Linked DNA regions of Homo sapiens: region 2 is linked to region 1. The links come from fine-mapping of genetic effects on gene expression. A gene starts in region 1. The other region holds a variant in brackets. All regions are shown on one strand. Distances are between the middles of the regions.

What was found.
Region 2: its variant is fine-mapped to the expression of FAM135B in subcutaneous fat (GTEx, PIP 0.98).

Annotation. Positions count from the first base shown.
Region 1 is chr8:138,494,338-138,499,719 of GRCh38, forward strand. It overlaps FAM135B (family with sequence similarity 135 member B), which reads right to left and starts at 2,924. Exons shown (of 20, transcript NM_015912.4): 1 at 2,334-2,924.
Region 2 is chr8:138,431,673-138,437,054 of GRCh38, forward strand. All of the region lies in intron 1 of FAM135B (family with sequence similarity 135 member B), which reads right to left. Among named protein-coding and RNA genes, the nearest start is that of FAM135B, 63 kb to the right of the region's middle. The variant C/T (reference allele first, on the strand shown) is at 2,367.

The sequences.
Region 1 (5,382 bases):
CTGCAGCCACAACCAAAGTCAGATAGGGAGAGGCACCTATCATTGGGAAGCATCAAATCAACAGAAAGGACAGGTATGTGTGCAAGCGATGACACAGCACAGTCCATCACAAAGGAGGTCCAGAGTGTTGTGGGAGCACATGAGAGAATATGGGAAAGCTTCCTATAGGAAGGGGCATTTGAGTTGGGTTGTTAAAGGAAGAAAGAAGTGAGAAATTGTTATTCTAGGCAGGGACACCACCATGAGCAAAATCAGGGGCATAAAAGAGCAGAGAATAGTATAAGACAGTCTTGGTTCCTTCCAGAAATTATAATTCCTTCAGCAATAAAATCAACCTGTCAGCATTCAGTCTATTTCAGTCAAATTGAGCAAATATTTGGTAAACACCTGACATTACAGAGCAGAGTTGGATGAAAGTAATCCTGCCCACGAGAAACCCACAACCCGAGGTGAACAGTTAAATGAGTCCCTACTCTGTCTAAATCTCTGTTTATACTGTAAAAAAAAAAAAAAAACTTAATCCACCCATTGTGAGCAGGCCTCACTGTTTCAAACTAGACGAGTGCTGCATTTGATGGCAAAGCACTTGACCTTCAGCACTTGTAGGCAAGGTGGATGGCATGCAGCATTTTCCCCTGAGAAGCCCTCTTTATGTTGCCCTGAGTGAATCTTGGACCAGACTACAGTGTTTCCACTGTGAGTCACTGACTAATATTTCCACTCTCTTTTCGTAGTTGATGGATGTTTAATGATTTGCCAATCTGAGGAAGAGAGATTCTTTAGAAAACAATAATCCCTTTTACTTGCACAAGACATCAGGTTTTAAAAAGCCCTTCCCAAACATCCTCTCCACATCCCATTGGATTGTGATTGAGCCTGGTAAACTGCAAGACTTGTTAGTTAGTATCCCCATTCTCCAGATGAGAGAAAGAAGCCTCAGTGAGGTGGAACAACTCAAGGTCACACAGCAGGTGCATGAGGAAATCAGAGTTCAAATCCATGTTTTCTGACCCTCCAATCTGGTCCACTTTCCTCTACACCTAACCATCTGTCTAAGCTCTGATAACATCATCCATATTATGACATAAATCTCCAGATGAGAGGTTGGCCAAATCACATCCCCTTGGGTAACATAACCACACCATAAATTAAAAGCCCAATTAAAGAACATAGCCTTTTAACTGGGACTTAGACTGTCCCCCGAGGCCACGATATAAAGGAAGAGCCCTTTCAAAGTCAATGGCTGCCTATCCTGGATATTATTCAGAGGCCTACTTACCTACATGCACGAACTTTCAGACCCTAATTATTCACATGCTATCTTCCTTCTTCCGGGGCCCTGGTCCCAGCTGATCTGAGTTTGTAATCACTCCCCAAGCTCTGGCCCTCTCTCCAGCCTGCAGATGTAGTTAACAGTCCATCACACTGTATGGACAGCCCAGGTGCCTCTCGGCTTTGACACATCACTTAACATCAAGAGCATCATAACCTGATGGAAAACAATGCCCCCTGGTTCAAATGGACAACTGAAGCGGTGTCTCCAGCTGTCTGAAAGCGAGATAGTTTGCCAGTGGCCAAGGAGCAAGGATTGTCACTATGAGCGATGTGATTCTTGTTTTGCTGGCAAAGTGGGGTGGGGAGCTAGAAATGAGGTGGGGAGAAGGGGAGGGCATAGTCTTGACTGCTAGCTCAAAATTTTATTTCTATTCCCATCCTATCCCTAATAGTCAACGGCAATAACATGATACTCCTGTGTCCCAAAATAATAACAGTTACTACTTGCCTCGTCTAAACATCCCCTCCAGTGACTGGGCTTGAAGCTGGCTCTACAGATCAAGAGCTGGTCCCTTTCCATGTCACAGCTGAGCTGCAGTGTCCCCGCACACCCCTGTCCCCAGCCAAGCCACAGGAAGAACGGGTCTGTGCATTCGCCTGGATCACAGGGAATCGCTGCCACTGTCCCCTCCACCCCAGTGCGGTCTTCTCCTGAGCCTGGCCCCCGGGTTCCCTGGCTCCAAGGACCCCAATGGCCAAGGTCTGCATGCGCCCCCTCAGCCTCCATCTGGGACTCCTGGGGGGAACCCCTCATTAACCCAGCCTCTCCGCTCCTTTCACAGCCCTGGCCCTTCTTATCCCCTCAAGACCTGTCCAGATGTGCAGCAAACCTGGAGGGCAGAGAGACTGGGGAAAATCGAGGGAGATAAACCACATTTTGCGGCGGAATCGCTGTTCCGTGACAGAAAGCCATCCAACTGGCAACCACGCTTGCAGAAGCGTCACTACCACCGACGAGAGAGTTTTGCAGCTGCCGACCCCGAAGCGCTCTCACCTACCTGTCTCCACTGCAGGGCTCCCCTCTCTCTCCCCCGGGGGCCGCGCTCCTGGGTCCCTCTCTCTCCTCTTTCGCCGTCTCTGGCCGCCAACAGTTGCGGCGGCGGCGGCGGCGGGCGGACTGGGGAGTCCGCAGCACCTGCGAGCTGGTGTTGGGTCCCCGCGGCGAGGCTGCCTGGAGGAGGAGCGAGCGGATGCTGCCCTCGCCCGCCGCCGCCGGTGCTGATGCGGTTGCTATGGTTATGGAACCCCGCAACTGCCCCCCTCTCCGTGCAACAGCTGCCCGGCCGCGGCCTCCGGGCAGCCCCAGCGAGCAGGCGCCAGGACGCGAGGCTGTCAGCGCGGTCGGGGGAACGCAGCCGCCAGCGCCGCAAGAAAGCAAGGACCGACCGGCTGCGCCCGCGCCGCTGGGCTGGCGCCTCCCGGGCTGCGCTCACCTCTGGCGCCCTCACTCCTCTCCTTCCTCCGCCGGGACGCGGCCAGACCCTCCGCGCCGCGCCGCGCGCCCTCGCGGCCGGGAGAGCCCGCCCTGCTGCTCCCGCTGGCTCCGCTCCGCAGCCGCTGCGCACCGCGTGGGTAGACGCTGCGCGACTGGCTGGCGGCGCGGCTCACGCGCTCCCACCTCGGTCCCTCTCCGCCGCGAGGCCCTGATGGGAGCCCGGGGCGGGCCGCCCGGCGGCCAAACCCCGCCCGCTCGGCCGCCCGGGTGCCCAGGGCGCAGGCTGCGGCCCCGCGTGCGGCCCTCCCAGACTGACCGGCGCGAGCATGCTCAGTCCCCGCGGCGGGGCTCCCCTCTCGAGCCAAGACCCCAGGCCTCGGGCAGGAAAAGGGTCCCTGCAGATATCCGGGGGCGGGGCGCGGCGGAGAACTGGCTGGGAGGGGACTGTTGAACTTGGAAGAGAAGCCCAGGCAACAAGTAGATGCCTGAGAAAGGGTAAAAGCGCTGAGCAACCCATACCTCCAATGCGAAGTCAGCAGTGGCCTTCAACCAGCCAGCCGGCCCGTCATCCGATGGGCTCCTCACTTCATGCTGAACGTGGGGGTTCACAGACGTGTGAGATTCTGTCCACGGAGGAGGGAGAGGAAGATTGGGGAGGGTTAAGCCAGCTCCCGTCTACTGAGCATTCTTAAGGGGCATTGGGAACTCTAATTATCACCACCACTGTGCTGGCAAGTTCTCGTGGCATGCCTGTGACAGATGACAAAACAGCCTTAGAGAAGGAGCCAAGACTGGGACTCGGAAGCCCAGTGACCCGTCCACTAGACTCGGCTGCACTAACTCCACCCAGGAGGAGGCAGGGAATGGAACCAGGCATTAGAGGATGACTATGTCCCCCATTAGACTGGGCTGCACTAACTCACACCCCAGGAGGAAGCAGGGAATGGAACCAGGCAATTGCAGTTGGCAGGAGGAGTCTCTAACCCTGTCAGGCTGGGGGCAGGGGCAAGTAATTGGGGAAAGATACCTGAAAAAAAGGTATAAGAACAAATGAGTGGGGCGGTGAAGGGTAGAGAAGACTGCTCTTTCCAGGACAAGAGGAGCAGGGTACAGAGGCCTGGAGGCAGGACAGAACAGCAGGAACCTAGCAGCAGCAGGCAAGGAGAGGTGAGGCAGGCGAGTGGTGAGGTTTACAGGGCAGGCACTGCACACCAAAGGCCTTGCGATCCAAGTGAAGGGGTTGGAATTTGACAATGTGACCCTTAGGATGGGAAGGGAATGGGGAAGGTGGTGGGGAGGAGGGCAGTGAAGCAGTTTAAGCAGGAGAAAGGCTGGGTGGGAATGAAGGGAAGATCACCTTAGTTGAAGTGTGTGTGGTGCTGGCTAGGGTGGGGATTAAGGCTGCAGAAAGAGGTGTCCTAAGGAGGCTGTTGACATAGTGGGCCTGGGCAGATGGAGGCTCTGAGCTATCTACCCTGCTTGTCCTCCCCACAGCACCCAGCAAGCCCAGGGCAATGCATACCCTCAGTAAATGTTTGGTGAATGGCAAATAAATATGAATTTCTCAATAGAGAAAATGGGTGCTTTTCTTTTACAATATTTGTCTCTTAAATGTGTTCATAACCATATGGCATTTATTTTGCTATTGACATTGCATTTTTATGCAACCTTATTTTTGAAAGTCAGTGCAAGCACTCATTATTTTCCTCTGCATTTTCTAGTCCCCAGCAGTAGAGATATGCCAGGAGCATAGGATTTACTTGTATTGGATGTATTGTCTGGATAAAACAGCTCCATGATTTATTAAGTGAAAAAGCAAAGTGCAGAATAGATAAAATAAGATAATATTAAAATAAGACAACTGTTGTGAAACAAGGAGACAGATACACATATTTGTATTGCTTGCATTGGCATAAAAATACGCTAGAAGGCTATGTAAGAAACTTGGAGAAGTAGCTATTAGCTATGAGGGTGAAGATGGGTGGAAGAACTAGGTTGACGAGGTTAGAGTGAGAGTGAGAATTTTGACATACACTATTTTTTTGTTTCTTGAGACAGGGTCTTACTTTGTTACCCAGGCTAGAGTGCAGTGGCACAATCTTAACTCACTGCAGCCTTTAACTCCTGGGCACAAGCAATCTTCCCACCTCAGCCCCTCCAAGTAGGTAGGACTACCATGCCTGGGTAATGTTTTTATTTTTTATAGACCTACCACCATGCCTGGGTAAAGTTTTTTATCTTTTGTAGACCTACCACCATGCCTGGGTAAGGTTTTTATTTTTTGTAGAGATGGGGTCTGGCTATGTTGCCCAGGCTAGTCTCAAACTCCTGGGCTCAAATGATCCTCCTGCCTCAGCCTTGCTGGGATTATAGGTGGGAGCCACTGCACTTGACCTCAACATACACTTTTATAAAACATTTTGATGTTTAAGCCAAAAAGAAATTGCACATATATGTAAGTGTGTATGTGCATATATATAAACACACACATACGTATGTGTGTATATGTGTGTGTATGTGTGTGTGTATATATACATATACACATAATCTGTATATATAATCCATGACTAGAATCTCAGTGAATCTTGAAATAACCTCAAAGGCAACATGCA
Region 2 (5,382 bases), 63 kb before region 1:
TATTATCCCCCATAAATGAAGATTTTGAGGAAGACAATATCATGTCCTGAATCACTGCTGTCACGTGGGACTCAGGATCCTCGCATCTTTCCATTCTGTGGCCTTCAGGCTACAGCTTCATGCAAGGCTGGGTCCCTTTAGGTTTGCAAGATGGAATACAGATACTCCAGACTCAGATTGACAGAGAGTCAAGAAGAGAAGAGAGCATCCTCCAGAGGAAAGGCCACTCCTAAGAATGCCTCTCTTGGGAGGAAAACAAAATCATTCCCAGAGGCACCCAAAGATAACCAACAATACCAGACTTCATCAGCCAGAAGTGTGTCATGTGTCCTCCCCTAAACCAGCCACTGGGCAGGGAAGGAGACCAGCACAACTGGCTAATACCCATCAGAACGATCCCTGGGGATGGGTGTAGGCTCCTTCTCCCCTAAATTGTGTTGAGGAGGGATACATGTATAAACAAAGTTGGCACAAAAGAGGAGAGACTACTGGACCCCAACAGTGTCTGATATGAAAGTGATTGTAGTCAGCATAAAGGTAAAATGTTCCTTTATAAAACGTGTTCAGAGAAGGAATCTCACAGGATATGATGCCTGAATGTAGCCCTGAATGATAAGAATGAACAGGCCTTAGGTTCTGTGAAAGAGCTTCCCAGATAGAGGGACTTGCTGGTAAGGAGCAAGAGTGGTATTCAAATTCCTACACTTTGGATCCAAAGCTTGCATGGTCTCCACTACTCCAAGCTGTCTGCTGAAACTGCACCTGTTCCCAAACAACAGTCTCTAATATCATGGTCTTCTGTGCAGTCTTTGACCATGTCCTGCAAACCAGGTGTGTCATCTTACCCATCTTGGTACTTTTCTCCTTCTGCTTGATATATAGAGAGAGTTATACAGGTTATTTTGCCCTAAGCAGGTTATCCACATCCCTAAAATAGGGATAGCATCCGTAGCATCAGGTACCTCCCATCTAATCATCACTAACAGAAGAGGGCAAAATCTAACTGGTAGATATTTTGCTCTTTCATCTTCTATTAGCATAGGAACTCCTTAAGGTCAATGACCATAGCTGGTTCCGATACACATGTACCATGACATCTAACACAGAGTGAACACACAGTACATTCTTGATGAATATACATCAAATTAGACACAGTAGTATAGATCCATGGCTCAGCTTGATTCAATTTGTTGGGGGGTGACGGGGCCCCAGAAAACCTTAATGTTTGTAAAACAGTCCAGGTACCCAACCAAAAGGCACACAGGAAGGAATGACAATGGAACATTGTCCATCCAAAATCTGTTCCCAGAGGACTGACGGGGAAAATACAAAGTCAGACAGAACAATGAGGCAAGAGGCAGGAGAGCAGTCCACTGTATACAGATAGCAAAGGGTAGAGGACACATGTGGAAGGCCTAGAAAGTCATAATAAAATTAGATCTGACTTTTTCCAGCAATGAAGAGTCACTGAAAAGAAAACAAGATTTACTGATTACTTGTTATATTTCAGGAACTGTGTAAGGTATTTTATATATATCTTTAATCTTCATTTAAAAAGATTATTAAGGCCGGGCACGGTGGCTCATGCCTGTAAATCCCAGCACTTTGGGAGGCCGAGAAGGGCAGATCACTTGAGGTCAGGAGTTCAAGACCAGCCTGACCAACATGGTGAAACCCCGTCTCTATTAAAAAAACAAAAATTAGCCAGATGTGGTAGTACATGCCTGTAGTCCCAGCTACTCAGGAGGCTTGAGGCAAGAGGATCAATTGAACCCGGACAGCAGAGGTTGCAGTGAGCAGAGATCATGCCACTGCCCTCCCAGCCTGGATGACAGAGCAAGATTCTGTCTCAATAAATAAATAAATAAATAAATAAATAAATAAATAAATAAATAAAATAATTTTAAAAGAGTATTAAATAAATGTAATCTCTATTTCATAGTTGATGAAATTCATGCTCAGGAAGATCAGGTGGCTGAAGCTCACATGGTGAGATGATAAATCTAGGATTCTACCCAAATCTCTTTGATGTTCAAGTTTATGACTTGTTTTCTTAGCCACATAGTTGACTTCTGACCAATGATTTAAGAAGCTCAACCCAGTAAGAAGAGAGAATGGGTTTGCTGGAGAGGGAGAGAAATCAGAGGTTGGGACATTAGTTAAAACCCGTGGCAATAGCCCAGGACAGAGAGGGTGAAGTCTGGCTCTGAGTATCATTATCAGAAATCAACCATACATAGAAACCAAGTGGATGAAGAGAAGGGAGCAGCTGCAGAAGACACAAACGCATCCACCTTACGGAGATGGGTTCTGGGAAAACAAGCATTTCTGCTTATGCCACTATTACTAAATAAAAGCAGCATTGA[C/T]ATTGCCCTTGGGATTCTTGCTCTAACTCTGGGCACACATTCTAAGCTTAGACAAGCTTTAGTCACAAGGACAAAATATTATTAGTTTAGCTGTGTTTTAGCTCCAGCTTTCTCTATGAATCATGTGTGCATGAATCATAATCACCACTCTTCATATTTTAGAAGCAGATGTATAATTTTTCTTACCCAAGAAAAAAATCAATTGCTGTCTAAATATGAATCTAATGTTGTTTCTGAATCTCTTTGATTTATTCAATTCTGAGCTTTCATATTCTTTGGGAGTGAGAATAATCAGGAAAGCTTACAAGAAGGTGACAAGGTGACACACACTGAGCATTTGCTCTGTCCATGACTGCTCTCCACTTTTCAAAGTCAAGGTGGGTGTAAGTGTTCCCATTATTTTATAGATGAGGAACCTAAGGCTCATATAAGCAATTTATTGGCTTGGGGTCACACAGCTAGTAAGCATCACAAGGTAGGATTTCAATTAAAGAGTGTCAGACACCAAATTATATGCTTCCAATGACCCTTCCCCAGCTTACCTAGCTACAGTGTAAAAATATGGTATTAGGCCAACTGACTGCATGTCACAGTTCTCTTTGGAGATGACATTCAAAGCTCTTCCCAAGACGGCCTTGTCATTTGTTGTTTACTGTCATCTTAGGACACTGCATTAACAGTGGAAAGCTACTTACCTCTGAATATGTTCACTGTCTATGAAATGGGGATACCAATCCCACCAGCCTCTTACAGTTGACATGAAGCACACGGTTCAAGTAGGTGGGGGTACATGCCAGTATTGTGTCACTAATAACAGTGACACCAGTCAGATTGGACACCTCTCAGCTCCAGGACATGATCATGTAATTCCCTGAGCAGTTCTACCCTCCTGCTACTGAATACAAGTTTCCTCTGGCACATTACCTGCTCCACTATCAGACAATGTACATATTTTCAATCTTGCAAGTGTGGCTGAAGCCACACGCCAGCCAGGCGCGGTGGCTCGCGCCTGTAATCCCAGCACTTTGGGAGGCCGAGGCGGGTGGATCACGAGGTCAGGAGTTTATGGCCAAGATGGTGAAACCTCATCTCTACTAAAAATACAAAAAATTAGCCAGACGTCGTGGCAGGCGCCTGTAATCCCAGCTATTTGGGAGGCTGAGGCAGAGAATTACTTGAACCCGGGAGGCAGAGGTTGCAGTGAGCCAAGATAGCTCCATTGCACTACAGCCTGGGTGACAGAGTAAGACTCCATCTCAAAAAAATAAAAAGAAAAAGAAAAAAAAAGAAGCCACATGCCAAACTCCATGATGATGCCTCAATGCACCTCATCTCATTGATGCCCCTAACCAATGGTGAAGCTTGGAGTGTTATCCTCAGGTTACTGATGAGAAAGCTGAAGTTCTGAATGTTGACATGTCCACAGGTGTACTGCTTTATGATGCAGTAGCCTTGCTGTATTTAAATGCAATAAGACTACTAGTGTATTGAATTACATTACTTATTAGAATGCAATAATATTACTTTTATTATTTATCAAATACAATAGCAATATCTATAAGTAGTTATGTATAGTTTTAGAACAGTTTTTGTATTTTCAATTATATTATCTCATCAGGCCTCAATATTCTCTAAAATTTAGGTCTACAATAAATATTTCTAAAAAAAACACATACAAATGAATCAAAACACATATTTGAAGGTCACAACTTGCCCTCTGGTCTGCTCTCAAAATTGTCTTTCTAAATTGCAGATTTTATCCTATCACCCCTTTGTTTAAGGGGTGACTTAAGCAAAGGAGGGGAGACTTCAAATCTGATTTATCAATAGAACTGAAGTAAGCAATTCCAATCATGATTCAAGACTGGGGATCTGGATTTAGCAGATATTTCAAAACCACCTTGTTCTCCTTGTCTTTTTGATCAGGGCTATTTCAGCTTTCTACCATCCTGCCCTTCCTGACCTTCAGACTATACTATCTGTGACAGCCTATGTGCTCCATTGGGTCTCATGTTATGATAACAGTGTCGTAAAAGAGGTGGAGAGGTGGAGACCAGATCCTTCACTTTTACTCACTGTGAAATACAGGGAATATGCAATTTAATGCTTATCTTACATGTGATAACTGGGCATTGGGAAGGGCAAACAAGCGGCTAAGCAAATGCTAAAACGATGAGAGAACCCGGATCTGCAAGAGATGTTCTCTGGGAAGAACTCGGTAAGATCAATGGATATAAATTGCTGAAAAAAATCACACTTATATGGTTACTTCTTCCATTTATCTGGAAAATACCCCTGAGCATTTTTTTTTATGCAATGCATAGCGGCACTGTGATATGAGAGGGTGACAATCATATGATGTGGAAAGGTGGCTCACTCTACAGAAATATTTGTAGAAATGTATTCATTCACACTGGGCAGCAGGAATCAAAGTGTCTGCTTGTTTTGCCAGTGAACACCAGGTCCTGAGTCCAGCCTTCTGTGAACTGCAATGACAGGCTAGTCTGTGTTCCCAGGGACCTCCTCCCACAATCAAAGACTCTAAGGCATCAGTTTGCAACCATGTGTTCACGTTGAACAGAAAATCTTTACACAGCATGTCAACATAGGTGGGCATATTTGATTCTGACTGATTTAGCCATCAAGTCTGATTAGAATGTGACTTTCCAAACAGTGTGAGCATAGCAGGAAGAGGTCTTGAAGTTAAATGAGCTGGTAACATTTTATAAGGGCCATGCAACCTTCAGCAAATCCTTTAAGATTTCTGAGTCTTAATTTCTTGTTCTGTACAATGGAGATGAGAACCTGCCACATAGAGCTGTTGTAGAATAAAATTTATTGACATATTTACTATAGTATCTTCTCATATTCTGAGAGGTTGGAGATTTCCTTGCCTTTGTCCCTTGGACCTTGGAGTGCTGCAGATCAATACTGATAAACAGGATGGCATAAATAAGGAGAATAAAGTCCAAATGCTGTGGCTTGTTTTTAAGGCACCCTGTGCTCTGACCTCCTC